Regions from separate parts of the Homo sapiens genome. Here all the other regions are linked to region 1. Evidence: fine-mapped expression QTL. A gene starts in region 1. Each other region holds a variant in brackets. All regions are shown on one strand. Distances are from middle to middle.

The links.
Region 2: its variant is fine-mapped to the expression of RGL4 in whole blood (INTERVAL, PIP above 0.99).
Region 3: its variant is fine-mapped to the expression of RGL4 in whole blood (TOPMed, PIP 0.98).

The regions. Positions count from the first base shown.
Region 1 is chr22:23,685,149-23,696,264 of GRCh38, forward strand. RGL4 (ral guanine nucleotide dissociation stimulator like 4) reads left to right here and starts at 5,865. Exons shown (of 11, transcript NM_153615.2): 1 at 5,865-7,061; 2 at 7,187-7,380; 3 at 7,521-7,843; 4 at 8,611-8,826; 5 at 9,199-9,302; 6 at 9,802-9,871. The coding sequence starts at 6,883. It also overlaps the pseudogene GUSBP11. RefSeq lists a silencer at 14-308 and an enhancer at 10,272-10,772.
Region 2 is chr22:24,667,225-24,678,340 of GRCh38, forward strand. No RefSeq gene overlaps it. Among named protein-coding and RNA genes, the nearest start is that of GGT1, 70 kb to the left of the region's middle. The variant A/G (reference allele first, on the strand shown) is at 5,180.
Region 3 is chr22:23,745,652-23,753,873 of GRCh38, forward strand. ZNF70 (zinc finger protein 70) reads right to left here and starts at 5,461. Exons shown (of 2, transcript NM_021916.4): 1 at 5,060-5,461. VPREB3 (V-set pre-B cell surrogate light chain 3) reads right to left here. Exons shown (of 2, transcript NM_013378.3): 2 at 7,092-7,547. The coding sequence ends at 7,225. RefSeq lists enhancers at 1-178, 179-679, 5,219-5,894, 5,777-5,836, 6,677-6,736 and 1 more and a silencer at 5,177-5,626. The variant A/G (reference allele first, on the strand shown) is at 3,925.

The DNA of each region.
Region 1 (11,116 bases):
TGAGGGTCAAAGGTTTCCTGAAGCAACTCAGGTGAGACCTCACATACAAGAGCCCCAAAGAGGCTGCAAAAGCACCAGCTCAGCCAGCCAAGAACCCAGGTGTCACACCCTTCTCAGACCACTGAGGATCGCTGGGATTCAGCAGGAAAAGGTGGACATGACAGCTGATGGACCAATACTTCCCAACACCCTTCCAGCAAGCAGCTGTGCCCCGCCCCTCCCCACATGAGTCACTCAACTTCAGTCCTGCACATGGATGCCTTTGACCATGGGGTCATGGCTTTGGTCTCCTGCCATAGGGGCAGTGAGAGGAACAATGGTGGTCTGGGAAGGAGGATCCTAGACTGGGTGTCCCACAAGACCAGGCTGTGACAGATCCCAGAGCCAATACTCATGCGCCAGCCAGTCCCCAAACCCAACAGCTACCCAAAGCCCAGGATATAAATAGCCTGTGCACTGCTAAGCAGATACTTCAGGGAATGATCTGCTGGCTGTGAAGAAGATGCGGCCTCAGTAGGGTTCCACGAGCCTTCTGCCAGCAAAATCTTCTTTGCTTGGATGCCCATTAGAAACACTAAGGGAGCTCTTCAAAGGAACAGGCCAGACATGGTGGCTCACATCTGTCAACTCAGCATTGTGGGAGGCTGAGGCAGGAGGACAGCTTGAGGCTAGGACTTTTAAGACCAGCCTGGGTGGAACAGTGAGACCCCACCTCTACAAAAAACACAAAAATTAGCATGGCATGGTGGTGCATGCCCATAGTCCCAGCTACTTGAGAGGCAGAGAAGGGAGGATTCCTTGAGCCTGGGAGATCAAGGGTGCAGTGCCCATGATCATGCCACTGCACTATGGCCTGGGCAACACTGCAAAGTCCCGCTTTCAAAAAAGAAACAAACAAAACAAAACAAAACCAAAGATGCCTGTCTCCTGCCCCATCAAATAAATCCAAATCTCTGCAGGGTGACACAGGGTATTAACATTCTTAAATTTTGCCTTTGCTGAAGTAAACATATAGTAATGGCTGAAAACCACTGCGTTATGTAAATACACTTCCTATGACTTATTTGTAGTCCTTTTGTATCTAGCAATTTCTACAGACCCTCTCTGTGGGCTTCGGAAGCCAGAATGGGCAGGGCCAGGTGTGAGGTGTCCTAGGACACTGAGGGTAGAGCACAGCTCCCAGCTCAGGGGGACCCATTTCTGAGGCTAAGGCACCCACCTGGGGCTCAGCCTATCTTCAGAGGGAAAATCACACCTCAGAACACCAGACACCCAAAAGAAAGCTCCAGTTCGGCAGATACCTGCCAATAGACCCTGGAGTGGCTGCCCCAGGGAAAACTGCCATTGCACTGTCAGCTCCCTCCAGCCCTCTCTCAGGTCCCAGCAGGAGCAGATTTCTGACTAAGCTCAGAGGTCTCAACAAATGGCAGGTTGAACATCAGAGGAGTTATTAATAGGCCTATAGTTACCTCAAGACTCCACCTTACCAGGGCCAAAAATGAGTCCTGGGAGGGCAGCCAGAAAGAAAGTAGGGCAGAGAGGAAACACAGGGAGAGGGGCCCTGGGACCACGTCAGATATGGAGGGAACCAGGGGAACGAGAGCAGCCCTGATGATTGTACTCCCCACAGCCCCTGCATGCCTGTGAACCCTGAGAATTCAGGGTGAGGAGCTCACTCTTGCCTTTCACCTGTTCCTGGGCTCTGGCAGGCTGGCCTGCTTCCTGCCCCAGCCTCACCCACTCTCCGCACTCCTCGCCACTGATGTGGGCAGCTGATCTCTCCGGTTTGCTGGGCTCTCACCCTCTGCCCAATGGCACCAAGTTAACTTCTTCGCATGCTTTATTTTCTGTGATTAAAAAGGGAAACAATTCTCACTAACGCCATTTCTCAGAGGAGAAAACAGGCACAGGGATGTTCTATGACTTCCTCACGATCACCAAGCTACAAGGGGGAGCTGGGCTTTGAATGGAGGTCTACCCATGCTCCTAAAGTTGAGGCGTCCTCCAAGGAAAGGACAGCACCTATAAAAGCTCAATGAATGGGGCGGCAGTGTCACCACTAAGCCCGACCACGCTGCTACTCTGATATCCAACTTCCAGCCTCCAGAACAGGGAGAAATACAGTTCTGTTTTTGATGAGCTCCCCAGGCCGTTACAGCTCTTTCTTTGCTGTAACAGCCTGAACTAGCCCAGAAGTGCTATTCCATCATCTGTGTCATATTCCATCATTCAGAAGGGAGTCACTAACCCCTCAGTGCTGTCTCTGTGGACGCTGCCCACCCTAGGCTGAGATGAGGCACAGGGTCTGGGTCTAAATAAAATGGGAAGGCACTGGAAGGTGCAATGTCATAGGAGGAGGATGTCTGAATTTCATTTAATCTCAACCTCTACTGGTGCAGCATGAAAGATGAGGCCCAGAGCAAAAGTGTCTTTTCCCGAGATCACACTGTGGACCCCAGGCCCACTGGAGTTGCATTAGACGTTACCTCTCACCCCTTCTTGTATTTGTTCCATTTCTAAGTGTGTGCAATATCCACAGGGAACACCACACCATGAGTTTTTAAATATTTATCTCAAACATAACCTCATGAGTTCCCTAGGAAAGAGATGCTAGCATAACCCCCATTGTGCATGCTGGGGAGACCCCAAAACACCAAAGGAGTTCTCTAGGGTCTCACAACTGCTAAAATAAAGGCTGTTTGACCCAGCACTGTCTCCTCAAACCTGGGACCCTGGTTATATCCAGGTCTTCCCAAGGTGCTGAAGGGGCACACTTTTTCATAATGGTGACTACGTAAGGAGTTGACGGGGGAGGGTGAGCGGTCAGAAGCCCAGAGGGGCCTTTGAGTAGGACTTATGGAAAGGAGGAGCTTACAGGATGGAACCTACAAGATGTGACCTCACTTCCTTGCCGACAGACCCCCAACAGAACTTACAATTCTGGTAACTAGGCACCCACATTCTAGAGACAGCCCCATTTCCAGCTCACTTCGTAGGCGATGCTCGAGAGAACAACATGTTCTCCTGCTGTATCCCGACATGCTGCCGACCTCCTCGTCGCACAAGAGGCCAAAATGAGAGTCTTTCCCGAGAATATAGACATTGGTTCAACCCTCACCCTCGACGCCTCTGGCCCTTTGCCAGAAGGCACCCACAGGTAACACAGGGCCCAGGGCAGGCCCATCCAGGCTAGGCCTCAGCTGTGCCCATCAGGGCAGCCTCAGGCCCCTCCCCACTTGTTTGGGGGAAACAGGAGATGAGGGGCCCTCCCTGGATAGGAGCAGGTAGGTTGTCAGGTGTTTGGAGCCTGGTAGGTATGTCAGGTTCACAGCCCAGGCAGTGCCTGGCAGGATGGGAAGGTGAGTGTCAAGGACACAGTTTGTCTGCTCAGATCTGAATCCCAAGTCCTCAAGCTGTCATCTGCCGGAGACCTCAGGCTTCTCTGGCTGGAGGTCTATGCAGATGCTCCTATGTGCCAAATCCTGTTGGGGAAGGGGGTGCCAGGGATGAGTTCTAATGGGGGTGTCCCACTGTGGGGTCAGCCAGACAGGCCACTGACACCTCTTGGCCCGGCTCTCGGGCACTCTCTTTGCAGAGCTCCACACAACAGACCAAACAAGAGCTGTTGGATGGATTCAATTTCTCCATATTCTTCAAAGGGCACGTGCACCACACCACCAACCACGTCCAGTGCCGGTCTGCGGTGAGATTGGGCACAGAAGGGTCTCCACAGACAGGACTTGTGAAAACCAAGGTGGGCCCAGGACTCAGACACGAATATGGGGACTCCCTAAGCTCCATCCTAGGGCGTTCCCACTTGAGTGACCCACTGTCCTCTCCCAAAGGAATCTGGCTGCCATTAGTCCCCAGTGGCAACTTGGTTACAGGCAAAGTCCCTTTCACCTATCAGAGGAAGACCAGAGAAAATCCTTCTGTTTTCACTTTAGGCTATGCCAGGAGTATCTCGGCATGTTGCTTTAAGAATTGAGTACAATGGTAACATTGCAGCAAAATACTCACACTGTTATCATTTTAACTCCCCACCCTAAGTGGATCTCCGGCAACAGGCAGGCAGCTCCGCTGCCCTGCCAGACCTCCTCCAGGACTTAAAATCCAACACTTTTGCACAAACAAGGGGTGGGGGTGGGGGGGGTGCATTGATTACAACAAAAGAAGGTGAAGCGACTCTATGCATTAGTCTTTAAAGTGTCATCTCACAGAACTCATCCCTGCAGCCCCATCAGGCAGGAGTTGTACCCTCGCATGTCATTGTAACATTCCTTAAGGGAGGCCATTTTCCACAGCGGGTCAGCCTCTCAGTGCTGGTGGAGCCTGTCATGATAAAATTCCCTTTCGAGGCAGCCTTTCTACAAGGAGCATAATCCTATGCGTGTCCTAATAGGCTGGAGCAGTTTGCCAGGGCTGCCATAACACGGCACCCTGACTGAAGGGCTTAACCACAGAAATCTGGTTCCTCACAATTCTGGAGACTGGAAGTCCAACGTCAAACTGTCAGCCTGGGGTGGTTTCTCTGGGCCTCTCTCCTTGCCTTGGAGATGGCGGACTTCTATCTCAGTCAGCACAGGGTCTTCTCTTGAACTTCTCTGTGCGCTGACCCCCTCTCCTTGTAAGAACCCCAGGCATGTTAAATTAGGGGCCACCCTAATGAACTCACTTCACCTGAATTACCTCTTGGAGTACTCTGTGTCCAGACACAGTCACATTCTGAGTCTCTGGGGTTGAGAATAGAAACAGTTACATTTGGGGAAGGGGACACAATTCAACCCATAAAATAAACAAATCCCCTGCAGCAGACAGACACCCAGGAAAGGGATATCTGGGTGAAAGGATATGCAGATATCAACTTTCAACAGCTCTAGCTAGTTGACTTTCCAAAAGGGCTCCAGCTGGTCACACGGTCACCAGCAGCCTCTGAAGGTAGCTGCTTCTCTGAACGCAGCCTCCCCTGAATACTAACACGCTTTTAACTTTTCGCCAACCTGCTGTCTGTGTGGCAGAGAAAATCCTTGTTTCATTTCCACTTTCAAACATACATTTGCGTAACCTTTCACGGGTTCAATACCTGCCTGCGTTTTCCCCAAGTCGCCTCGCAGATCCTGGGCCTTGGGACGCGCTTCCTCCCACCCTGGAGTCTTCCGGCATTTTCCCCTTGGCCAGGGCTGGGATGGCCGTAGCTGTTTCTCCAGACTCACGTTCATGTTAAAGGAACAAAAACAATCATATACCTTTAAGTCAAAGAGTTCTTCTAGAGCGTATTGTCCTGTGTGCTGTTGCTGAAATGAGGAGGGGATGAGGCCTCCCCAGGCCTTGAGGACTTGCAGGGATGATGCTCTTCATGCAGGTTGCTGACACAGAGGGTGCTGTTGCCCCACAGCTGACAAACACCGGGACGATGCCTTGAAGGCAGGAATCGTTTTATCATTCTCCATCCTCACATGCAATGTTACTTTGAAAGCCTAGAACGCTTTTCACCATGGGCACCCAGGTTCTCCATATGCACAAGTCCCTGAAGGGTTGGTGCTTCTTGGTGTGAGTTCCAGATCCCGATCCTCTGGTGGTCCATGGTGTTACCACTGACTCCCATGTCCCTCCTTGTCCCCCTAGTATGAAAATGAGATCTGCAGGATGCTAACTTTCCAGCCCGGCACTGGGGAGAAGCTGTTGGGAGTCCCTGGTTCCAGCCTTTCTAACTAAACCCATCTCCTCCTATGCCACCTGCCTGGGCCCCTCCTGGGACTTTATCACTGTGCCACACTTTTTGGAACTACTGGTTAGAAGGTGAGTGTCCATCCCCCTCCAAGACACAGAGGTGCCTCTGTCCCCTACTGGCTCTGTCTTGAAGATGCACCTCTCGGAGCCTCGGTTGGCTCCTCTGGAACAGGGAGTAGTGAGAAGACGAACCTCACAGGGTTCTTGTAGGGACTCAATGATCTAAGACACAGCAAACAAAGGGGTCCCTAGAGCCTAAAACTCTGGAAAATCTGCTGGGGGTGCTGTGATTCATGTTTGTTACTTTTCTCTTCCCCCTCACTTGAAGCAGCTCTCAGCATTCTGCCTCAATGGCCTGTATCACTCACTGTTTGGAAAAACACATAGAAACCAAGTCTGCGATGGCACTGGTAAAGGATGTCTGAGATTCCTTCTGGCTGGTCTTTCTCCTTGACACAGACAGAAGAGGGGTCCCTTGGTGCTGAAAAAGGAGCCACAGGCCCACTCAGACATCTGGAGAGGCTCACTGGGGTTCTCCAAAGGTTGGGGTTCACTCATTCAACACATACATTCAAAACACCTCATTTGTGCATCGCTCTTCTTGGGGCTTGGCATAATTTCATAAACAAAGCAGATGACAATCCCCCGGCCTTGATTCTACTCAGAGTCAGGCACTCACAGTAGACAGAATAAACAAGTCATATCTACAGAATGTTACAGGTGAGACCCTCATGGCCTCCTCTACGTATGGTGGCATCCTCCCAGATTCTGACTAGAATGACGCAGCCCAGCAACAAATATAAACTGGGTGGATTTAGGGTTCTGAAGGGCCTTTTCACCCACAAAACATGGGGGAAAATATGTGGACTCTGGCTGGGGAGAGACTAAAGGAGCTCTGGGGCTCATACTTCTTATAATTCCCACGAGAAGGCTGACATCTGGGGACTTCCCCCACAAGAGGCAAATAGTGAGTTCTGTAAATGGAGACTTAGGTCCCCTGCAAAGCAGAGGGGAGGCTGGGGTCACAGCTGGCCACTGAGAGACCCATCCCCCTCAGCACCGTGGCTTCCCAGCTCTCCCTGTCCTCCTCCCCCCGACATCTGCCCCTTCCCTCCTAACCCCAGGACCAGGGGACCCAGATCTGGAGCTTTGATGAGGAAGCTGCTCACAAATCTGCCTGCAGCTGCAGTCTTGAGTGCCCAGGTGTACAGTGCTGTGCTCCAGGGCCTTTGGGAAGAGAATGTCTGTGGGACGCCAGGGCGCACGAGGGTCTGTACAGCCCTGCTGTATGGCCAGGTCTGCCCCTTCCAGGACAGCACTGATGGCTTACGGTAGGGTGGGGCTGTCCTCCACACTGGCAGCAACAGGCCAGGGACCCAGAACCACGCAGGGGTGCCCTGGAGGGTTGTGTGGGAGAAGGCCAGGCCTCTGACTCAGCTGTCTACTCCATCACCAGCACCATCACCTCCATTTTGTTCAACTGGCCCCCCGAAAACACTTCAGTTTACTATCAGCCCCCGCAACGGTCATCTTTCCGGATAAAGCTGGCCTTCAGGAACCTCTCCTGGCCTGGACTGGGCTTGGAGGACCATCAGGAAATTGTCCTAGGCCAGTTGGTGCTTCCGGAGCCCAACGAGGCCAAGCCAGATGGTGAGGGGGCTTGCAGTCTGCAAGACTTTCCGGGGGTGGTGTTTTGGGGCTACAATTCCCTTAAATTCCACCCGGTCATTTCTGTGCTTGGAAAACCCAGTGAAAAATGACTGGTGTGGTGACCTTTTCTCCTTTTCCAGATCCTGCTCCACGTCCTGGGCAACACGCATTAACAATGCCGGCCCTGGAGCCAGCACCACCACTGCTGGCGGACCTGGGGCCTGCTCTGGAGCCAGAGTCACCTGCAGCCCTGGGTCCACCAGGATATCTACATTCAGCACCAGGGCCAGCACCAGCACCAGGGGAAGGGCCCCCTCCAGGGACAGTGCTGGAGCCACAGTCAGCCCCAGAGTCCTCCTGTCCCTGTCGTGGGTCTGTAAAGAACCAACCCAGTGAGGAGCTGCCTGACATGACGACCTTCCCTCCCAGGCTGCTGGCAGAGCAGCTGACCCTCATGGATGCGGTGAGCAGCTGAGCTTTGCAGGCTGTGTCTCTGGCACCAGCTGTCTCAGACCAGCCTCTCCCTGAGGAGCAGCCAATGCCCTCGGTCCAATTTCAGCCCCACTTCTTACCAACCGTGGGATCTGGATGAGTTTCCTCACCCACAAGCCTTCCCTGTCTGCATGTGGACGGCAGAGATGGGACATCACCAGCGCCAGCTGCACAGAGTGACTGTGCAGACTGAGTGACAGGAGATGGACAGAAAGCAGGGCAGGGCAGGTGCTCACTGTGGGGCAGGCAGGGCCATGGGTCACTCACCCAGCTGCTCAGGAGCCTCACTACCCTCAGCACTTATTAGGTACCTGATGCATACTGGATTCTATGGTAGACACCCAAACAGAGCCCATAGTTGCAGCTGCCACAAGGAAAGTGCACCGGTACGGAGAGGAGTAGTAGAGGGCTGATTGGGATGGGAGGAAGACGAGGCCTCAGGATGGGCAGGCCTGAGCCACCTTCTAGTTCTTAGAGTGTGGATGGCCTGGGAGAAAATGTCACTCTCTCTTCCCACCCTTGTTGGGTTCTAGGCCATGATGCATTCAGGTCCCTCGGGGGCAGAAAACCAAACCCAGGGACTCCCACAAGTCTGGAGCCCATTTTAAAGCTTTCTGAGCTCCAGCTTGGTTCCTGCCAGAGACCGTGGATGACTGTGAGCTCAGTCCCTGCCTGGGACTGTGGGTGACTCTGAGCTGCAGTGTGCTGTGTCCGTGACACTCTCCTCCTCCCCCAAAGGAGCTGTTCAAGAAGGTGGTGCTCCACGAATGCTTGGGCTGCATCTGGGGCCAAGGACATCTGAAGGGGAATGAGCACATGGCACCCACAGTTCGTGCCACCATCGCACACTTCAACAGGCTCACCAACTGCATCACCACCTCCTGCCTCGGGGACCACAGCATGAGGGCCCGGGACAGGGCCAGGGTGGTGGAGCACTGGATCAAGGTGGCCAGGGTAAGCTATGGTTGGGCCTGGGGATTCCCTCTTTAAAAATGGGGAACTTCCTCTTCTCCTCCATCGGCTTTCAGGATCGGCATCTGTATCTCTGGCCTGGACCCTGCACATCCCCTAGGCTCTTCTTGCCAGAGCTTCACTCACCTTGACTCCCACGGCCCAGTGGTGGCTGCTCACTTCCGACCTGGGGTCTTCCTTGGGTTGAACTAAAATCCTCCTAGATGAGTGACATCCACTCGGCCCCAGGTCTGCCCTCCTGAGGCTCCCCAGGCCTCTGCTTCATCCAGGAGGGGAGATCTCAGCAGAGGGGGCTGAGGCTGTAGTGGGCCAAGCTCCAACTCTGAACCGCACAGCTCATTCTTCCCTCTCCAGGAGTGCCTAAGCCTCAACAACTTCTCCTCGGTGCACGTCATCGTCTCTGCTCTGTGCAGCAACCCAATAGGTCAGCTACACAAGACGTGGGCAGGAGTGTCCAGGTGAGGAGGGCTCTCTCCATGGCAGCATCAGGGTTGACCTAGGGACTCACAGGTCTCCCCCCATGTGCCCTCAATGACTCTGAAAGGTTCTTGGAGTCCAGGGACACTGGAGGCAGGGATGGGCCGGTGGCTGTGGTCACTAAGCTGCCCTGGACTCCTAGGCAAGGATTTCCAACTCAGGACTAAGGTTTTTTAACCATCAGGAACAGACTGGAGCCAACTGGAGGCTTTCAGGTGTTTGTACCCAGCAGTGGAACTCTGTGTCCAGCTGAAAGCTAACTGTAAACACGCAGTGGCTCATGTGAAGTGGAGATGGGGCCCAGGGGAGGAGCATGAGAGGTCCCACCCTGGTCCTCTGGAGCCCCTGTGATCAGAGGACTCCACTGAAAACTCTCACCCAGTAAGCTGGGATTCACTGGGTTTTCAAACAAAAGGGACTGGAACTCACAAATCTCCCCTGATTCCCAAATTTACCCTTCTTTCTTTCCTCTGCCCATAGCAAAAGCATGAAAGAGCTAAAAGAACTCTGCAAAAAAGACACTGCAGTGAAGAGGGACCTACTGATCAAGGTACAGTGGAGTCTGGGAGATGCAGGACAAGTGTTTAAGGGTCAGAGAAAAGAGTGAGTTTGGAAGGGCATTGGACCAGGTGTCGAGTGGTTATTTTGTTTGGTTTTGACTTACCTACTAAAAGTGGACTTGAAAAATTCCCTCCATGCCTACCTTGGGCCAACAGGAAGAGTGGTGTGTCGGTCCATGGGCACGTGGGGGCATGGGGGCAGGAGGCCCTGGAAATGGGATGTGGCAATGGCTGCTGGGCTGCTGGGCTGCTGAGCAGGGGTGATGAGCTGCAGCATTAGCAGGGCTCTGGCTCCCATGCTGGTCCATGCTGCTGGCATGGAGCTTCCTCCAGGCTGGAGGGTGATCATGGTAGGTGGGACTTCCTTCCTTCCTCAAACCGGCCAGCAATTCCTCAGGAAGCCAGGCCTCTGCTGCTGCTGCTGCTGCTGCTGCTGCTGCTGCTGCTGTCTGCAGCACACCTCCATGGGCAGGGGGCCTTGGCCTGCACTGGGGGAGAGGGGGAACAACAACAGAGGAAGCTCATGTGGCAGGGAGTCCAGTAACTGCCCAGCTTTGGGTACCAATGGGCATACTGGGGACAGACGTAGCTGTTTGCTGGGACTCCCCACTCTGCCCTTTGCAGACACCCAAAAACGGTCATGTCAGAGGATTCTCACCGGTTAGCAGCGACGCATGCTCATGACAAGTATCTGGGGGATTCATACATTGCTAGGGGATCCTCCCTGACCAGATCTCAGAATCGTCCATGCAAATGAGAAGGCAACATGTCACCCCACCCAGGACTCTGGAAAACCCTGCCATTGCAGTCAGAGATGGCGCATCAGGAGGCTACTTCCTCAGTGGAGAAAGAGAGAGTTCCGTGCACGGAACTCCCCTGGGGGATCATTGGCGAGGCGAAGCCTTTGGCATGGCTCAAACCCAGTTTGCGTGGCAGAGATTCCAGTGGGGCTGGGATAGGCAGGTGCCACTTAACCAGGTCTCCTAAAATGCCCTGTCCCTTTCCCATCACGACTGTATGTGGCTGGAGACCTAGACACTCAAAGACTCCAGAGAACACGACCCTGATGGGTGGTGGTGCTGGGATGTGAGCTGAAGGCAGCCGAGACGGAGCCTCCAGGAGCAGAAGGAGGCGTCCTCTCTTTGGGGGCCCTGGGGAGCCACTGCCCGCTCTGGGCCTCTGTTTCCTCATCTGGAAAATGAAGGGATGCTGAGCCTGTAGTGCAGGCCTCACAG
Region 2 (11,116 bases), 980 kb after region 1:
GTCCTTCAAGAAATTAATTTATTTTATCTAAGTTCTTGAATTTACTGGCATAAAGTGGTTCCTAATAGTCCCTTATTATCCTCTCATAGCTGTAGAATCTGTAGTGTTGTCACCCCTTCCATTCCAGGCCAGTGGGGTGACTCATGCAGAGTAGAGGGAGTTGATGAGAAGAGAAAGGGAGAGACACATAGTTGCCAGTATTTTTCAGCAGTAATTCATGCTGTTCACATCATACCTTTGATTTTTGTCTGTTTTTCAAGTAACAGGCTGAGGCAGAAGAATCACTTGAACCCTGCAGGTGGAGGTTGCAATGAATTGAGATCACGCTATTGCACTCCAGCCTGGGCTACAGAGCAAGACTCCATCTCCAAAAAAATGAAAATTAAACATAAGTAAATGTGAATTTCAGATAAATAGCGATGACTCTTTTGGTCTAAGTATACCCTAAATGTTGTCTGGATAAAAGACACTTAGGTGAGTGCTGTGGCCAGGAAGGCAAGAGGGATGGGGGACCAACCAGCTAGAGACAAGGGAAGGTATCACTAAGGACACGGCAGTGGAGCTGAGTCCTGAAGTGACACACGAGCAGTTATTTCTCAGGGAAGAAAGTGGTAAGGGGTTTTCAGGGGTAGGAACAGTAGGAGCCAAAGTGTGGGTATGTGAGAGTGTGTGACTATGTGTGCACGTAAAATGGAAATGAGACGGAGGGATGGGTTGGAGCCTGGATTTGAAGAAGCAGGTATCGGCGCTGGGGTATTTGGCCTGGGACAGTGAGGCATTATTTTACAGAAGAGTGGCCTGGTGGGATGTGTGCTTTAGAGTGTGGACACACAGCTGTGGCACAGAAGGATTGCTGGCAGGGGAGGGCGACAGGAGGCTGCCAGAGTTGTCCAGCTGGACTTCTTCCCTGACACAGACAGGCTGGCATAGGATTGGTGTGGTAGTGGGGATGGGAAGGAGGGAATGCCGCGAGGTCAGGAACTTCCTCCAGTCGCCAAGAGGCGTCTTGACCGTTTAAAAATGTCTCTGAAGACTTAGCACACCAAGGCCCCCTATAGTCCCAGGGTATAGGCCACCCTTGGGATTAGAAGAAACCCCTGGGAGCTGTGGTGGGGTGGGTGTGGCTGTTGGAGGTGCCCCTATTCAGACTCTTGCTCTACCATTTGCTTTGGGATCACCTTTTACAGTGGATCGGATATTATAATACCCACTTCTTATGATGAAAAGGAACTGAATGAGTGTGGAATCCCTAGGACCCCGCTGGAATATAATGGGCCCTCGGGGTTTAGTTTCTTTCCCTCTTGCCGGTGAGGTTTGAGAGGGACTGGAGAACAGTGGATTTTGACCATCCATTTGGGGTTGTCAGTCTGTGCCAGGCCAGCTGGAGACTACAAAACGGAGGTACAGGTAAGCAATGAGGCCCTGTGGTTCATTCTCAGATTTCATTCCGGGAGATCAGAGAGAGCCCTTTCTGGAACTGTATCCTTTCTTGGGAAATATGGGTGGAAATCCGAGGGCCCTGTGCATAGATTTTCCCTTCTCTTTCAGCTCTGCCAGCTGCCAGAACTGTGGCTTTCTCAGCAGATTGTCTGTACACATGAGACCTTATTTACGGAACGATTTACAGAAAGACAAACCCTTCCTTCCAAGTTTAACCAGTCCCCTTATACCAAGGTTTCCCAGCCTTGACTGTATTGATATTTTAGGCTGTATAATTCTTTGTCGTGGGGGGCTGTCCAGTGTGTTGTAGGGAGTTTACTAGGATTCCTGGCCTCTTACACACTCACTGTCTGTAGCACCTTGCCTCCCACCCAGTTGTGACAACCAAAAATGTCTACAGACAGTGCCAAATATCCCCTAGGGTACAAAATTATCCCCTACTCCTCATTAAGTACCACTGCTTTATACTCACTAGACACAAGGAAAAAGACCTTCTTTTATTTATCTTTTTTTTTTTTTTGAGACGGAGTCTTGCTCTGTCATCCAGGCTATTGCGCAGTGGCGTGATCTCGGCTCACTGCAAGCCCCGCCTCCCAGGTTCATGGCATTCTCCTGCCTCAGCCTCTCGAGTAGCTGGGACTACAGGCACCTGCCACCACGCCCGGCTAATTTTTTGTATTTTTAGTAGAGACAGGATTTCACCGTGTTAGCCAAGATGGTCTCGATCTCCTGACCTCGTGATCCGCCTGCCTCAGCCTCCCAAGGAAAAATAACTTCTTAGCATTTTTATTAATTTCTTTTTAACCTAACCAGTGAAATGCTTGTTGAAAAAAAGACTTCATTTTTACTAAACTGAATTTGAATTCCAATCTATTTTAACTTATTTAGTTTAGAAAGGCTTCCTTTGCACCATTGTCAAACTTTCAAATATAAAATTTTAAGTTGTTTTTTTTTTTTTGGACATAGTCTTGCTCTGTCGCCCAGGCTGGAGTGCAGTGGTGTAATCTTGGCTCACTGCAACTTCTGCCTCCTGGATTCAAGCGATTCTCCTGCCTCAGCTTCCTCAGTAGCTGGAATTACAGGTGTCTGCCACCACACCCAGCTAATTTTTGTATTTTTAGTAGAAACGGGTTTTCACTATATTGGTCAGGCTGGTCTCTAACTCCTGACCTTGTGATCCGCCCTCCTCAGCCTCCCAAAGTGCTGGGATTACAGGTGTGAGCCACCGCTCCTGGCCAATTATAAGCTTTTTAGAAAGGATTTTTTCTAAGGGTGGGGTTTCTGAGTCACTGAAATAACTTGCCATCCCTGACCTTGGACTGTTACACCATTTTTCCTTTGACCTTTGATCTGTGATGAAGTAACTTCTGGAAGTGGGATATCAGGAGTTATGTTCTTGTTGGTTTACACATGTTATTTTTTACAAGAACTCTATAAACTAGATTTTATCAGTTCTTTTTTATAGGAGAAGAAACAGATTTGTAGATACATAAAGTGATTAAGTGATTTGTCCAGAGTCACACAACTTGGATGGCAGAACTGGAGCTTGAACTCAGGTCTCTTGACCTTTAAGTTCAGTTCTCTACTCACTGTATGGGAGACCCGGAAGGAGATTCTTTTGGTGTGTCACATAGCCTTACCATTGCTCTGTCCTATGTAACGTCATCAATTATGTGAATTATCTGACATTACAAGAGTCAGAAGGTGTCGTAGAGATGCCTTAGAGTCCAACTTCCTTTTTATTGTAGATGAGAATACTGGGTGGCCAAGTGACTTAGATTGAAGACAGCACTTGTTAGAAGGAAGACTAATGGGTTTCAAGTCAAAGTCAGAATTTAAAAGTATCCTAAATGCTGGAAACTTGAGCTGATTTACCAAATGAAAATTTTAACAGATAAAGGTTTAGATTTTTTAGAATATAGATTACACAGCAATGAAGAGGAAACGCTGGGCATGGTGATGTGCTCCTGTAATCCCAGCAACTTGGGAGGCTGAGGCAGAGCTCGGGCTGTAGTGTGCTATGATAGAGAAAAAAAATTAAGAAGAAAAGGAAAGAAGTGGGATGTTGCTTACTGTACAGTTTTTTCAACATTTCTGCATGTTTGTAAAATTTCATAATAAAACATTAGGGGAGGCTGGGCTGCAGTGGCTCATGCCTGTAATCTCAGCATTTTGGGAGGCTGAGGCAGTGGGATCACAAGATCAGGAGATCGAGACTATCCTGGCCAACATAGTTAAACCCGTCTCTACTACAAGTGCAAAAATTAACGGGGCGTGGTGGTACGCACCTGTAGTCCCAGCTACTCGGGAGGCTGAGGCAGGAGAATTGCTTGAACCTGAGAGGCGGAGGTTGCAGTGAGCCGAGGTCGTGCCACTGTACTCCAGCCTGGCGACAGAGCGAGACTCCATCTCCAAAACAAAAATAAAAGGGGGAAAAAAGAGAACAGTAGCTTAGCAGCAGTTTGTGTGGTAAAAGACTTGAAAATATTAGATAACCATGAACTTATCATGAGCCTCTGGAAGCTCCTAGAAAAGCAGATTTTTTTTTCTTAGATTAAGGTAGGAGCAGCTCAGTTTCTAGATCGAGGGAAATAATAGTCTTGCTGAGCTCTGTGCTTGCCAGACCAGATCTGTCTTGTATCTGTGCCCACTTCCGAGGTGCCTGTCATACTTTGATGCCAGTGGACACAGGGTACTGAAATCTGGAGGAGTGGATGGGGAATGTGTGGTGCTGACTTGGAAGGAGGGCCAATTTAGGGAATCGCCATGGTGGTCTTCAGATACTGGGGGAGTTGTGGAGTGAGAGTGGTACTTTTATTTTGAACATAAAGCTTAGATTAAGGGAGAGCAAAGACATTACAGGGAATTAGATGCCCATTCTGTTTTCCTCATCCCTGACCCTCCCATTCTGTATCTTCAGTACAGCAGCGCAGGTTAGTCTTTGGGAACTGCAAGTCAGGTTATAGGACTGCACGGCTTTTATTCACCGTCCTGTGTCACATGAAGCCCAGGGCTTGACTGGTCTTCTGGCCCTTGCCGACAAGTCCTCATTTTGACATTTCTGTATTCTAGCCATACTGTATTCTAGCCAAGTCATTAGAGTTCTTCAGTTGAACCTGTGTTTACTCTCATACCTTCGAGGTGTACCTCCTACTTTGTTGCCCAAAGTAAGGCAGAATTGGGGATCTTTCTGCTTCCATTGTATCCTGTACATATACTTGCCCTGTTTTTTGTTTTTTAAAGTAGGTTCATAAAGGATGGGGACCTATTTTGTTCATTTACATGTCCTGTTTATTCCTGTAGACTGTGAACTCCTTGAAAGTAGGTATTTTTGTCCTAGTCCTTTTTTTTTTTAGATGGAGTCTCACTTTGTCGCCCAGGCTGGAGTGCAGCGGCATGATATCGGCTCATTGCAACCTCTGCCTCCCGGGCTCAAGTGATTCTCCTGCCTCAGCCTCCCGATTAGCTGGGATTACAGGCACGCACCACCATACCCAGCTAATTTTTTATATTTTTGGTAGAGACAGGGTTTCACCATGTTGGCTAGGCTGGTCTCAAACTTCTGACCTCAAGTGATCCACCTGCCTCGGCCTCCCAAAGTGCTGGGATTAGAGGCATGAGCCACTGGGGCCGGCCTGTCCTAGTCTTTATATGCCCATATATTTGAGTCCTCCTTGACTAGGTTCCCAGAGAATTGGTGCTTGGCTTGCCTGGACACGGAATAAACGTTTATTGATAA[A/G]TAAATGTTGTGCCCACAATGACTTGTCTCATAACTTTTTAGTAGTCAGGATCCTCCCACAGTAGACTCTTGTAACTACAAGAATATTTTTTTTGTCGATGTTGCACGTAGAGTTTCCTGTAAAATGGCTTCCAAGATATTTTTCATTTCTAGTAAAGAGTCTGTGAGCCGAGTTTTAAATAGTATTATTTCTACCTTATGTGGTAGGTAAGAGACAGCCCTTTGTTTTCCTCAGGAGGTTTTAATTATATGATCTCCTTGTAGAAGTAAAGGAAACTCTGGAGCTTCCTGTGTGGCTGTGAATGTGTAATTAGCTTTGGGCAGGGCTCCCAGAGCTGTGAACCCTGTCCTGAGGAGCACTGGGACATTCTAGTGAGCGTTCAGGCCACCCAGATTGCAGCCTTGTAAATGAAGGGTTTATTTCTCTAATGAGAGTGGTTTGTGTCTTCACCCAAATAATATTTTAATATTAAATTATGGCAAATATTTTAAATTTAAAAGTAGATATATATAAATTAGTATGATTTTTAAAATAATTTCAATAATTGTTTTAAAAAGTAATTTTAATACATGTCAATAATTTATTTTAGACTCAAGGGGTACACGCACAGGTTTGTTGCATGGGTATGTTGCACGATGCTGAGGTTTGGGGTACGGATCCCGTCACCCAGGTAGTGAGCATAGTTTTTCAACTCATGCCCATCCCTCATTCCCTTCTTCCAATTAGTATGATTACAACTAAGAATTTTACTTTTACAGCTCTAATTTAATACATATGGATCTAGACCTGGCAATAAATATTCTGCTCTAAGAAAGGTTTTATGTTAAATAACATGGTAGTTAGTCCCTTCAAAATAAAAAATGTTGATTAAGAATACCAGCACGGTCCCGGCGCGGTAGCTCACACTTGTAATCTCAGCACTTTGGGAGGCCGAGGGCGGATCATCTGAGGTCAGGAGTTCGAGACTAGCCTGGCCAACATGGTGAAACCTGTCTGTAGTAAAAATACAAAAATTAGCCAGGCGTGGTGGCAGGCGCCCGTAATCCCACCTACTCGGGAGGCTGAGGGAGGAGAATCACTTGAACCCGGGAGGCAGAGGTTGCAGTGAGCTGAGATCGTGCCATCGCACTCCAGACTGGGGGAGAAGAGCAAGACTTCATCTCAAAAACAAAAAGTATACCAGCACTGATGACAACATTGGACAAGTAGACAGATCCAGAAGGGGCAGGTTGAGCTGTGTAGTTTTAGTGTTGTCACGGTTTGTTAATATGTTGTGAAATATTCATTGAGATCAAAATCTGGCATTCCTAACTTGTGTTATGTGTATATTGGAGGCCATATGGAGTGGCAGAAGTGAAGTGAGGTTTGAATTCAGACCGTTGTTCCTCAAGAATGAATTGACCTGGAGAGAATTACTTGCAATCTCTGATCCTTAGTTCCTTCATCTAGACATACCCACCTGGGACCATGTGAGGATCCAGTGAACTGTACAAGGTACCACACAGGACATGGTGCTTGCTGCCTGGGGGAGGCTCAAGGCCTTCAGTGCCTTTCCCTGTTATTTTGGGAGTAGTGCATCTATTTTGGTGTTTTTAAGAAACACTGTTTGACAAATACATGAGGCATACTTCATGGACTATTGTTTCAGATTATTCTTAGAACACAGAGGCAGGATCCACAATGTTTTTATGAGGAAAGCTACTTTTTATTCCCCCAAACCTTGACTTTCCTGGACTAGAGGTCTCAGTGATGTGTGCTGATGTGACACCCTTGAGCAAAGTTGGAGAAGAGAGAGTGGTAATTTCCACCACTTCCCCTTCTCCAAGACACTGGAAGTGCTGTGAACTGTGCTCCTTCGCTCCTCTGCTCTGTAATCTCTACCTGGAGGGCTCTAGAGGGGCTCTAGGGAGGAGTGTCAGCCAGTGATTTCTCCATCTCGACCAGGTAGGGACCCAGGATCTTCTGGTGAATTCTAATTTGTTTTTTTATGAGCCTGAGGGTCATTTTAGGAATTTGTGGAAGCATTTGTGATTGTCTCAATGGTTGGTGGGTGCTATAGGCATTTATTTAATAGGTAGGGCCCATGGAATTCAAGGCTTAGTGTGGTGACAGTTCTGTAAAATAGAACTTTTCCTATGATCTGCACAGCTTTAGAATATCTTTTTTTTTTTTTTCTGAGACCAAATCTTACTCTGTCACCCAGGACAGAGTGTAGTGGTGTGATCCCAGCTCACTGCAACCCGGGTTCAAGCGATTGTCCTGCCTCAGCCTCCCAAGTAGCTGGAATTAAGAGATGTGCCACCACGCTCGGCTAATTTTTGTATTTTTAGTAGAGGCGGAGTTTCACCATGTTGACCAGGCTGTTCTCGAACTCCTGACCTCAGGTGATCCATCCACCTCGGCCTCCCAAAGTGCTGGGATTACAAGCATGAGCCACTGCGCCTGGCCTAGAATATCTTGCTGAATAACTTATGTAGATAGAAAAAAACTGTTTAAGGCTGAACCTATAACTGAATTCCATTTTACATAAAGGATTTTTTAAAATGTAATTTTAGTAGAAATGGAAATTTCAGGAAATGGAATTAGTCTAGACTTTGAAGGGAAATTATCTCATTTTGTTCTTAGTTTTACTAAGTGTATTACTAGTCTTGGTTCTCTCACATATATATATATATATATATATATATATATATATATATATATATATATGTATCCAGTGGGAAAGAGAGAGTGAGATATGTTTATATATATAGTATATTTAACTATATTTAACCAATATATATGATTGTATCACACGCATCCTATTGGTTCTGTTTCTCTGGAGAAAATATAAGTATTCACCAGTTGCCCTTTATCTATGGTTTTGCTTTCCATGCTTTGAGTACCTCATGGTCAACCAAGGTCTGAAAATATTGAATGGAAAAATTCCTGAAACAAACAGTTGGTAAGTTTTAAATTGTGGACTGTTCTGAATGACATGATGAAATCTTGTGCGGTCTCATTGTCACACCTGGAAATGAGTCCTCACTTTGTCCGATGTATCCATGCTGTGTGTGCTGCCTGCCCATTAGTCCCTTAGTCTTGGTTATCAGATTAACTGTCTGGTATCACAGTGCTTGTAACCTTTATTTCACTTAATAATGGACCCACAGTGCAGGAGTAGTGATGCTAGCATATTGTATTATTGCTTACTTTATTATTAGTTATTGTTGTTAATCTCCTACTATGCCTAATTTATCAACTTAACTTTATCATAGGTGGTATGTATACATGGTCCCCAACTTGCTGTGGTTCGACCTAAGATTTTTCAACTTTATGATGGCGTGAAACTGTCACATTTTTAATGTCATGTATAATATTCAATAAATTACATGAGGTGTTCAATACTTTATTATAAAATAGGCTTCATGTTAGATGATTTTTGTCCACCTATAGGTTAATGTAAGTGGTCTGATCATGTTTAAGATAGGCTAGGTTAAGCTATGACGTTCAATAGGTAAAGTGCATTAAATGAATTTTTGACTCTTGATATTTTCAACTTACGATATTTTTATTTCATCATAAGTTGAGGAGCATCTTTATGTATAGGCAAAAACATAGTATATATGGAGTTGGGCAATATCTGCATTTTTAGGCATCCGTAGGGGTTCTTGAAACATATCCCCCTCGGATAAAGGGGAAGCATTCTATTTATAACAAGATCCTTATTAAAGGAATTGGCTCATGCAATTATGGAGGCTGAGAAGTCCCAAGATCTGCAGTTGGCCAGCTAGAGATCCAGGAGAGCTGATGGTGTCATTCTGATCTGGCTCTGAAGGCCTGAAAACCAGGAGAGCCACCGATGTAAGTTTCTGTCTGAAATCCAGCAGGCTTTAGACCCAAGGAAAACCAATGTTTGTTTCAGTTTGAGTCGGACGGCAAGCAGAGATGTCCCAGCTCAGCAGTCAGGTGGGAGGGGCTCCCTCTTACTTAGCCTTTTTGTTCTATTCAGGTCTTACAGTTGATGAGATGAGGCCCACCCACATTAGGGAAGTTAATCTGCTTTAGACAGTCCACTGAATAAAACGTTAATTTCATCCAGAAACACCCTCACAGAGACACCCAGAGAAATATTTGACCAAAAGTCTGGGCACCCCATGATGCAGTCAGAAGACACATAAATTAACCATCACACTAAGAGTGATTCATCTTTTTAGGTAAATGAAGAATCAATCACATTATTGATAGCATTCATGATAGGTAGTGTGGTACCTGAGTTGCCAAAATGACATACTCAAATGAAGAGTATTTGTAGCTGTGAAATTCAGTGATTCAACTTAGAGATGTGGATTTCTGACCATTCTGCCTGAAAATTTACATATTGAAATTTATATTTATTTATTAAAAATGGTTTTTATATCATAGTTGCTGTGTTAAGTAGATATTTTTGGAAGATATATCTAATAAATAAGTTATTTCTGAATTTCATTTCAGGATAGTAAAGGTATATTTTCAATTGTTTTTAAAGAAAGGGGATGAGGCATGATGGTTCACACCTGTAATCCCAGCTACTCGGGAGGCTCATTGGGAGGATCCAATGAGCTTGGAAGGTCAAGGCTACAGTGAGCCATGATTGCACCACTGGACTTCAGCATGGGTAACAGAGTAAGATCCTGTTTCAAAAAAAAGGTGCGCAGGGGGTATTTGGGTCTGATATGGCCAAGAACCAGCGGTCTAAGTGATCTCAAGCTGCCAGCCTCCTTGAGCAGTCTGCATCTCAGCATCTTTAAAGCTTTGACTGTGTTTCTTTTCTCCGCTTGGACCTCTGCAAAACCGTAGTCTTTCTTCTTATCAGGTCTTTCACAGTGTTGGGATATATTTTCCAGAAATGTTTGTTCGATGTTGTTCATTAGGTTGTTTTTTTTTTTGAATTTTAGCTTTATTGATATGTAATTTATATGTCATACAATGCACTTATTTAAAGTGTAAAACTTAGTGGTTTTCAATATATTCATAGGATTGTGCAACTATCACCGTGATCTAATGTTAGAACTTTGCATCACTCCAAAAAGAAATCCTGTATCCATTAGTAGCCAGCCTCTATACTCCCTACCCCAACCCCTGGCAATCACTCATATTCTTTTTATCTCTATGGATTTGTTTCTGCTAGATAATTTGTATAAATGGAATCATATAATACATGGTCCTTTGTGGCCTTCCTGGTTTTTTGTTCTTTATTTAAAAAAAAAAACAAAACAGGATACATGTGCAGAACATGCAGGTTTGTTACATAGGTATACATGTGCCATGGTGGTTTGCTGCACCTATTGACCCATCCTCTAACTAACGAGGGGAGACTGTTCTCTCCCCTTGTTCCCCACCCCACAACAGGCCCTGGTGTGTGTTGTTCCTTTCTCTGTGTCCTTGTATTCTCATTTTTCAACTCCACTTATGAGTAAGAACATGCAGTGTTTCGTTTTCTGTTCCTGTGTTTGCTGAGGATGATGGCTTCCAGCTTCATCCATGTCCCTCCAGAGGACATGATCTCATTCCTTTGTATGGCTGCATAGTATTCCATGGTGTATATGTACCACATTTTCTTCATCCAGTCTATCATTGACAGGCATTTGGGTTGGTTCCATGTCTTTGCTATTGTAAACAGTGCTGCAATAAACATACCGTGTGCGTATACATATGTAACAAACCTGCATGTTGTGCACGTGTACCCTAGAACTTAAAGTATAATAAAAATATATATGTATATAAAATAAACATACCATATGCATGTGTCTTTACAGTAGAACGATTTGTATTCCTTTGAGTATATACCCACTAATGGGATTGCTGGGGTATTTCCGGTTCTAGATCCTTGAGGAATCACCATACTGTCTTCCACAATGGTTGAAGTAATCTACATTTCCACCAACAGTGTAAAAACATTCCTATTTCTCCACAGC
Region 3 (8,222 bases), 59 kb after region 1:
TCCCAGCTACTAGGGAGGCTGAGGCAGGAGACTCGCTTGAACCTGGGAGGCAGAGATTGCAGTGAGCGGAGATCAGCCCACTGCACTCCAACGTGGGCAACAAAGCGAGACTCTATCTCAAACAACAACAACAACAACAGCAACAACAACCAGGAAGTGGGGCCATTGCAGAAAAGGAGCAAGACTCCAGCTACTGGGTGACATTGGGGGCAGGTTTTGCTGGGAAAGAGAAAGAGAGCTCTTCCCTCTACCCTCCAGTCGCACTCCCTCCAGCCAGGTGCCCCAACCTGGGAGTCAGCATAACCGCTCTTATTCTCACCCGACCGGTCCCCTCTTATCTACTTCCTGAGGCTGCATGGGCAGCGTCTCTGTCTCTCAGTCCTCACTGCCACTCTGCAGCTCAGGCTTCAGAGCTACCTCCTGGGATCTTTTCAGGGCTGGCCTCCAAACTAGCTGCTGACCTCCGGCTTCCTCCTCTCCCTCTGGTGCATGCCCTACACTAACAATGGAGTCAAATATCCAAAACATAAGCCTGATTATGGTGGTTCCCTTTTTTTTTTTTTTTTTTTTTTTGAGATGGAGTTTCACTCTTTCACCCAGGCTGGAGTGCAGTGGCACGATCTTGGATCACTGCAACCTCTGCCTTCCAACTTCAAGTGATTCTCCTGCCTTGGCCTCCCGAGTAGCTGGGATTACAAGCGCCCACCACCATTCTTGGCTAATTTTTGTATTTTTAGTAGAGACCGGGATTCACCATGTTGGCCAGGCTGGTCTCAAACTTCTGATCTCAAGTGATCTGCCTGCCTTGGCCTCCCAAAGTGCTGGGATTACAGGCGTGAGCCACCATGCCTGGCCTGGTGGTTCCCTTCTTAGGATCTTGTGACAGCCCAACTCCTTCACACCTGGCCCTTCCAATCCATCTCCTGTCTGTCTGCCCCATACACCTCTTCTTTTTTATTTGAGATAGGCTCTTGCCCGTTGCCCAGGCTGGAGTATAGTGGTGTGATCTTGGCTCACTGCAACCTCTGCCTCCCAGGCTCAAGTGATCCTCCCACCTCAGCCTCCTGGGACTGCAAGTGTATGCCACCACACTCTGCTAATTTTTTTAATTCTTTCTTTTTGTAGAGATGAGGTCACACTGTATTGCCCAGGCTGGTCCCCCCAACACTTCTAATTTTCCAGCTCAATGACTAATTTGCACTGCTGTTGTCTGGTCCTAACAGGTAAGGACCATTCTCAGACTGCCACTTGCTCATCCTTCAGGACTCGTCCAAATGTCCCTTTTTCTCTGCACCCTCAGGTTCTTGACCATCTCAGGCCCCCATCGTTAGCTTGAAAATTCCCTAAGGGCAAATACTGTGCTCCTTCATTTCAGAATCCCCAGCCCCCAGCACAAAAGCACAATCCCAATGTACACAGTTGTTGAATAAATTATCAAATGGAGGAAAAGCCATTTGTTTTTCTAGAACTGTCACTTTTTTTGGTCAAAGAACACTTTAGTCAAATAAGTCAACTGTCTAGGACAGGGGTCCCCAACCCCCAGAGTGGGGGACAGGCACCAGTCTGTGGCCTGTTAGGAACCAGGCCGCATAGCAGGAGGTGAGCGGAAGGTGAGCGAGCATTACAGCCTGAACTCTGCCTCCTGTCAGATGAGCAGTGGCATTAGATTCTCATAGGAACTGGAACCCTATCGTAAACTGTGCATACGAGGGATTTGGTTGTGCACTCTTTATGAGAATCTAACACCTGATGATCTGAGGTGGAACAGTTTCATCTCAAAACCATCCCCCATGTCCCCCACCCATTCATGGAAAAATTGTCTTCTGCAAAACTGGTCCCTGATGCCAAAAAGGTTGGGGATCACTGGTCTAGGAGACATAAATAAATAAAACAGACAAGTCCGGGCGCGGTGGCTCACACCTGTAATCCCAGCACTTTGGGAAGCCGAGGTGGGCAGATCACGAGGTCACGAGATCGAGACCATCCTGGCTAACACGGTGAAACCCCATCTCTACTAGAAATACAAAAAAATTAGCCAGGCGTGGTGGCAGGTGCCTGTAGTCCCAGCTACTCGGGAGGCTGAGGCAGGAGAATGGCGTGAACTCAGGAGGCAGAGCTTGCGAGATCATGCCACTGCACACCAGCCTGGGCAACAGAGTGAGACTCCGTCTCAAAAAATAAATAAATAAATAAAAATAAAAATAAAATAAAACAGACAAAAGCAGAGCTGCTCCAGTTGAAGGAGGGCGCGTTAGCAGGGACAAGGAAGGAAGCTAGAACAGCCCACTCAGCACTCCCCCTCCCAGATGTGGCCCCTGAGGAAGCCCCAAAGAGCCCTATTCAGAAACTTCTGTGCTAGATAAAGGCAAAGTCTTCAGGTGACACAATAATGATAGCAACAGCTCATATTCACTGAGCACCTACTCTGTGCTAGGCACTAATAGGTCCTTCAAGGCACCTCATTTAATCTTCACAACTCTATACAAAGGCACAATTATCCTTATACTGCATCTAGAGAGTAACTGCCTCAGAAAAAAAAAAAAAACTAAATTAATCAGAACAGTCATAACAGAACTCATTTCTACTTGGAAAAAAAAATTTTTTTTGAGACAGGGTCTCACTCTGTCACCCAGGCTGGAGTGCAGGAGTAGAATCACAGCTCACTGCAGCCTTGACCTCCCCGGCTCAACTGATCCTCCAACCTCAGCCTCTCAAGTAGCTGGGACTACAGGGGCATATCAACACATCCAGCTAATTTTTTAATTTTTCTGTAGAGATGAGATAATATTATGTTGCCCAGGCTGGTCTTGAACTCCTGGGCTCAAGCAGTCCTCCCACCTCTGCCTCCCAAAGTGCTGGATTACAGGCATGAGCCACCATGCCCAGCAGAAATGATTTTTTTTTTTTTTTGAGGTGGAGTCTCACTCTTGTTGCCCAGCCAGGAGTGCAATGGCCCAATCTCGGCTCACTGCAACCTCTGCCTCCTGGGTTCAAGCAATTCTCCTGCCTCACCCTCCTGAATAGCTGGGATTACAGGCACCCGCCACCAGGCCCGGATAATTTTTGTATTTTTAGTAGAGATGGGGTTTCACTATGTTGGCCAGGCTGGTCTCGAACTCCTGACCTCAGGTGATCCGCCCACCTTGGCATCCCAAAGTGCTGGGATTACAGGTGTGAGCCACCACGCCCAGCCCAGAAATGATTTTTTTAAATGATTTTTCAGCCAATAGACCGACTGGATATAAAAAAAAAAGAGCACTGAACTAAAGTATTTTCTTTTTCCAGAATGGAGTGCAGTAGTGTGATTACAGCTCACTGGAACCTCTGGCTCCTGGGTTCAAGTGATTCTCCTATCTCAGCCTCTTAAGTAGCTAGGACACCATCCTGGCTAACACGGTGAAACCCTGTCTCTATTAAAAATACAAAAAAGGCCGGACGCGGTGGCTCACGCCTCTAATCCCAGCACTTTGGGAGGCCGAGGTGGGTGGATCATGAGGTCAGGAGTTCAAGACCAGCCTGGCCAAGATGGTGAAACCCCGTCTCTACTAAAATTACAAAAATTACAGCGCGTCTGTAATCCCAGCTACTCCGGGAGGCTGAGGCAGGAGAATCGCTTGAACCTGGGGGGCGGAGGTTGCAGTGAGCCGAGATCGCGCCACTGCACTCTAGCCTGGGTAACAGAGCGAGACTCCATCTCAAAAAAAAAAAAAAAAAAAAAAAAAAAAAAAAAGCCGGCCGTGGTGGCAGGTGCCTGTAGTCCCAGCTACTTGGGAGGCTGAGGCAGGAGAATGGCGTGAACCCAGGAGGCGGAGCTTGCAGTGAGCCGAGATCGCGCCACTGCACTCCAGGCTGGGCGACAGGACGAGACTCCGTCTCAAAAAAAAAAAAAAAAAAAAAAAAAAAGTAGCTGGGAATACAGGCTCT[A/G]CAGGCACGTGCCACACCTGGCTAATTTTTGTATTTTTTGTAGAGATGGGTTTTCGCCATGTTGTGCAGACTGGTCTCGAATTTCTGAGCTCATGCGATCCACCCATTTTGGCCTCCGAAAGTGCTGGTATTATAGGCGTGAGCCCCCTCGCCCAGCCCTAAAGTATTTTCAAAAATTCTTTGATCACTTCAACTCCTCTCACCCTCCCCCTCCTCTTCAGCAACCCATAATCTCCAACTCTTCCAGCTCTCTCACTCAATTTGTGCTTTTCGACCTCATGAAATCCAAGCCATTTTTACTGTAGTTCTCCTTTTCTAGCTCCACCCCTTCTCCATCCAGCTTAGACTCTCCATACTATGCGCATCACTTCAACTCTCACGCTCTAGCACCATGCTCCTCACCTCCTCGTCCGGCTGCAACTAGCCGCTAAGTCCCAGTCTTCTCGGCCAGTTCCTCCTAAGTTGTTAAATGTTGCCAAGAAAAATCATACAACTATGTATGGCACCACGACAAATTTCGAGTTTCCGATTTCAGCTGGGACCTCAGCTCTGGCATTCTATGACCTCCTTATTGCCAATCCCTCTCTTCTCGGTCTTCACCTTCCCACCCCATCTGGCACTGCTCTCCAATACCTCCTTCTCAAAACCCTTCATTTCAGAGGTTGCAAATTGGCAGCCTGAAGATCCTGCTATGTTATGTTTGGCTCTCGAAGAGTTTGGCTTTTCCTGTTCATTTTCCTTAGTTACCAATATTTAAAACTCAGTAGGTTTCTGGCTTTCTCTTGAAAAACGAAGATGTGACAATATCCCTTCACCCGCCCACATTGCCTACCTAGGTGCATGAAAGCTTTGAGCTACCCCCCAACCCCATCCCCACCCTCGCTTTCTTCCCAATTTTCATGGCTTCCAAGTTCTCTTTCTTGATATCTTTAGATTGCAACTCTTCCTCCGCCCACCCATTAAGTCCTGGTGTTCTCAAACTTCCCTCCGTAGAGGTTTTCCATTCCCACTATATAGCCCCTACACCCTGAAGTCTCCACTCAGAAAAAAGTTGGCAACCCTTTATCTGTCTCCCACAACATGATAAGTGTTTTTGGACCGAAAATGCAAAGATCTGGAACTCCATGCTTCCCACCTCTGTCGGGGCCTTCTCCGGGTCCTCCTGCATCTGTCATCCCATCCTCCAGAGAGTCCCTAGGGCCTGGGCACCCTGCAAACTCTTAGTGCAGTCAAGGTTTCCTGGCTGGGGGCCCAAGAGTTGCCACGGACCCGCACACGCTGCCCAGGCGGCGACGTGGCGCCCCTACAGGCTTCCCCGCGATTGGGGACACGCACACCCAGGGCCACCGGAGGGACAGGTGGTCAGGCGGACTCAGGTCACACCGGCGGACGCGGGGCCACTCACCTGGGCCGGGGCGGGGCAGCTCACCTGGGCCGGGGCGGGGCCGCAGGCGGGCGGGGCGGGGCCGCACCTGAGCTGCTCCAACCCGCGGCCGACGCGGCCGACGCTGCCTGGCTCCACAGCAGCTGCTGACGCGGAGCCCGCGGCCGCCCGAGCACCCAGAGCCCCGCCCCCGGCCCGCGGGCACTTCCGGGACCACTCTAGGCCGCGCGGAGGTCCCGGCGTCTCGGTGGTCCCACCGCGCCGGTTGTCGCCGCGCGAAGCCGCCCGGGCCCCGGGACACAAGGACCCGAATCAGGAGAGTCTCTCCAGTCGGCATGGTGGCTCTGGCCGTCCCCGAAGCGCGTGCTGGACGTGGGGGAAACAGAGATGGGCAGGCGTTGGCAGGAGAGCAGAGGAGGAAACAGGTCCGGACGGGCGGGCCGACCTCGAGCCGCCGGCACTCGGGGCATCTGCGCTGGTGCTGGGTGCAAGCCAGAAGCCACTGAGGCAGCTGGGGTCTTCAGGGAAAGGAGAGTGGAGCCCCAGAGCTGTCGACCCTGTCACTGTCCACAGGCACCGGGGTCCTGTTAGGATCCCCCTCCCCCAACCTGCTTCAAGGGTAGCCCTGTTCCTGTCTGCCCTCCCCGCCCCCACAGAAATAGAGATGAGAAGGGGCAGGCGAAGAACTAGGAGTGTCTGCGAGACCATCCCAGGACCCTGAGCCCCCCAACTCTCTGCATCCCAGGGCTGACTTCGACATGAAGCGCCTCCTCTCAGGCGCACCGGGAGGGAAGAGGAATGTGTTCTTGAAATGGCCGCCCCCTTGGCCGGGCGCGGTGGCTCACGCCTTTAATCCCAGCATTTTGGGAGGCGGAGGCGGGTGGATCACGAGGTCAGGAGTTCGAGACTCAGCCAGACCAACATGGTGAAACCCTGTTTCTACTAAAAATTATCCGGGAGTGGTGACAAGCGCCTGTAATCCCAGCTACTGAGACAGGAGAATCGTTTGACCCTGAGAGGCGGAGGTTGCAGTGAGCCAAGATAGTGCCATTGCACTCCAGCCTGGGCGACAGAGCGAGACTCCATCTCAAAAAACAAAAAAAAAAAAAAGAAAAGGAATCTCCGCCCCCTCCTTGCTGCTGATGGCAAGACTGGCCCCTCCACCCAGTGTTCTGCCCATGACACCCCCCCCTCAGGTGCAGCTGCCCAGCTTGTGGGAGAGCTTCCCTCCGCAGACCTTGGCCCAATCACAGGACATCAGGAGAACACACTGTCCCTGGGAAAAAGGATTCTGCCCCAGCCGCCCACCTGCCTTCAGCACCCTCAGCCTTGGCGCTCGAGTGCCTCCAATGCTACCCACACACACCTGCCTTCCTGCCCCATTAATGCTCTGTCGGGCCTTGGGCACAGACTCCAAGGGGTAGGCAGTGGCTGCCCCTCCCCAAGCCAACAGCCTGAGCTCCATGGGGACCAGCCACCCTAGAGCCATAACCCTTGGACCATAACCAGCCATGCAGAGTTGGGGGCGGCAAGGGCTGGTTCCTTTTTCTCCCTCCGGCTCCTCAGGTCACAGGAAGGTCAGGCTACCAGTTTGAGCCCCCAGGGGGCCATGGTGGGGGAGTCTGGGCCATGCCCCAATAGTCTCAGGTGCTTCCTCTTTGACAACAGTCCCCAGAATCCCCATTCCCCCGCACACTGCTCCCCACCCCAGGAGTGGGTCTTCGACTCCCAGACCCACCACAGTCATTTTTCTCAGCCAGGATCTTATGACCCTCACAATAGCTGTTGTTGACATGTTGAATATTATTAACCCATTTTACAGAGGGGAAGCAAGGCTCAGAGAAAGTTTAAAAGGGACCCAAGGTCAGGGGCAGAAATGGGAGGCAGAGGGGAGGCACCCATCTCACACCCCACCCCTAGGGACTAAAGCCGTAGCCAACAGAGCAGTAGTAATCCGCGTCGTCTTCAGGCTGCACGGGACTAATGGTGAGGACACAGGCATTGTGGGCCTCATCCTTGGCTGCCGAGAATCGATCGGGGATGTCAGCAGGCCGGTGGTGATCCTCCTCCGAGCGGTAGTAGAGGAGATATCGAGGGGCACTGCCTGCCCGCTGCTGGTACCAGGACACACCGTAGTCCCTGATGGTGACGTGCTGGGGGCTGAGCGTGCAGGAGAGTTGAGCCACTTGGCCTGGGAAGACCAGCAGTGCATCCAGCTGGGCCAGGACTGTCTGGGAAACTGCGAGACACAAACCCACTCAGCCTGAGCCCCTTCCCTCCCACCCCTGCCCTGTGAAGGCTTGGTTGGACTCCATGGAGACTCCCAGTCCCAAAGGGCTCATAGCCCAGTGCTATGGGATTAGCAATGAACGGGGTGCAGGAGGCCTGGTTCTGTGTGACTTAGGGTGCCCTATCTGGACCTCCATCTCCCTTTGTGAGTGAGGGGTTTGGAGTTAGCCCCCAAATCTCCATTAGTGCCATATCCTCAAGGATCTGTGTTCAGTTAAAGGCCCAGAGCTCAGAAGGTTGGACTAGCAGCCTCTAGGTCCCTCTGCTACCCACCCACGTTTCTCTGCAGAACTGCACCCCTCTCCCCCACTTCCCCGCCCACTTCACTTCAGCTCTTCCAAACCCTGAATACAGACTAACCACCCCCAGGAACCTCCTGGGCTGTCCCACACATCAACTCAGCCTCAGGCAACTGGCTGCAGGGACCCTCTCAGGGAGGTTAGATTGCCTCAGGCCCTGTGGGGTAGGGACCAACCCACAATAGCTTCCCCTGTGAAAAACTAAGAAGGAGACCCAAAGTCAGAGTCCAGGGCTCTAGTGATCTGGTCATTCACGAATGAGAAAACCAAGGCCCACACAGGGAAGTGATTTGCCCCAGGTCAAGGGCAGAGCTGTCTGAAGCCAG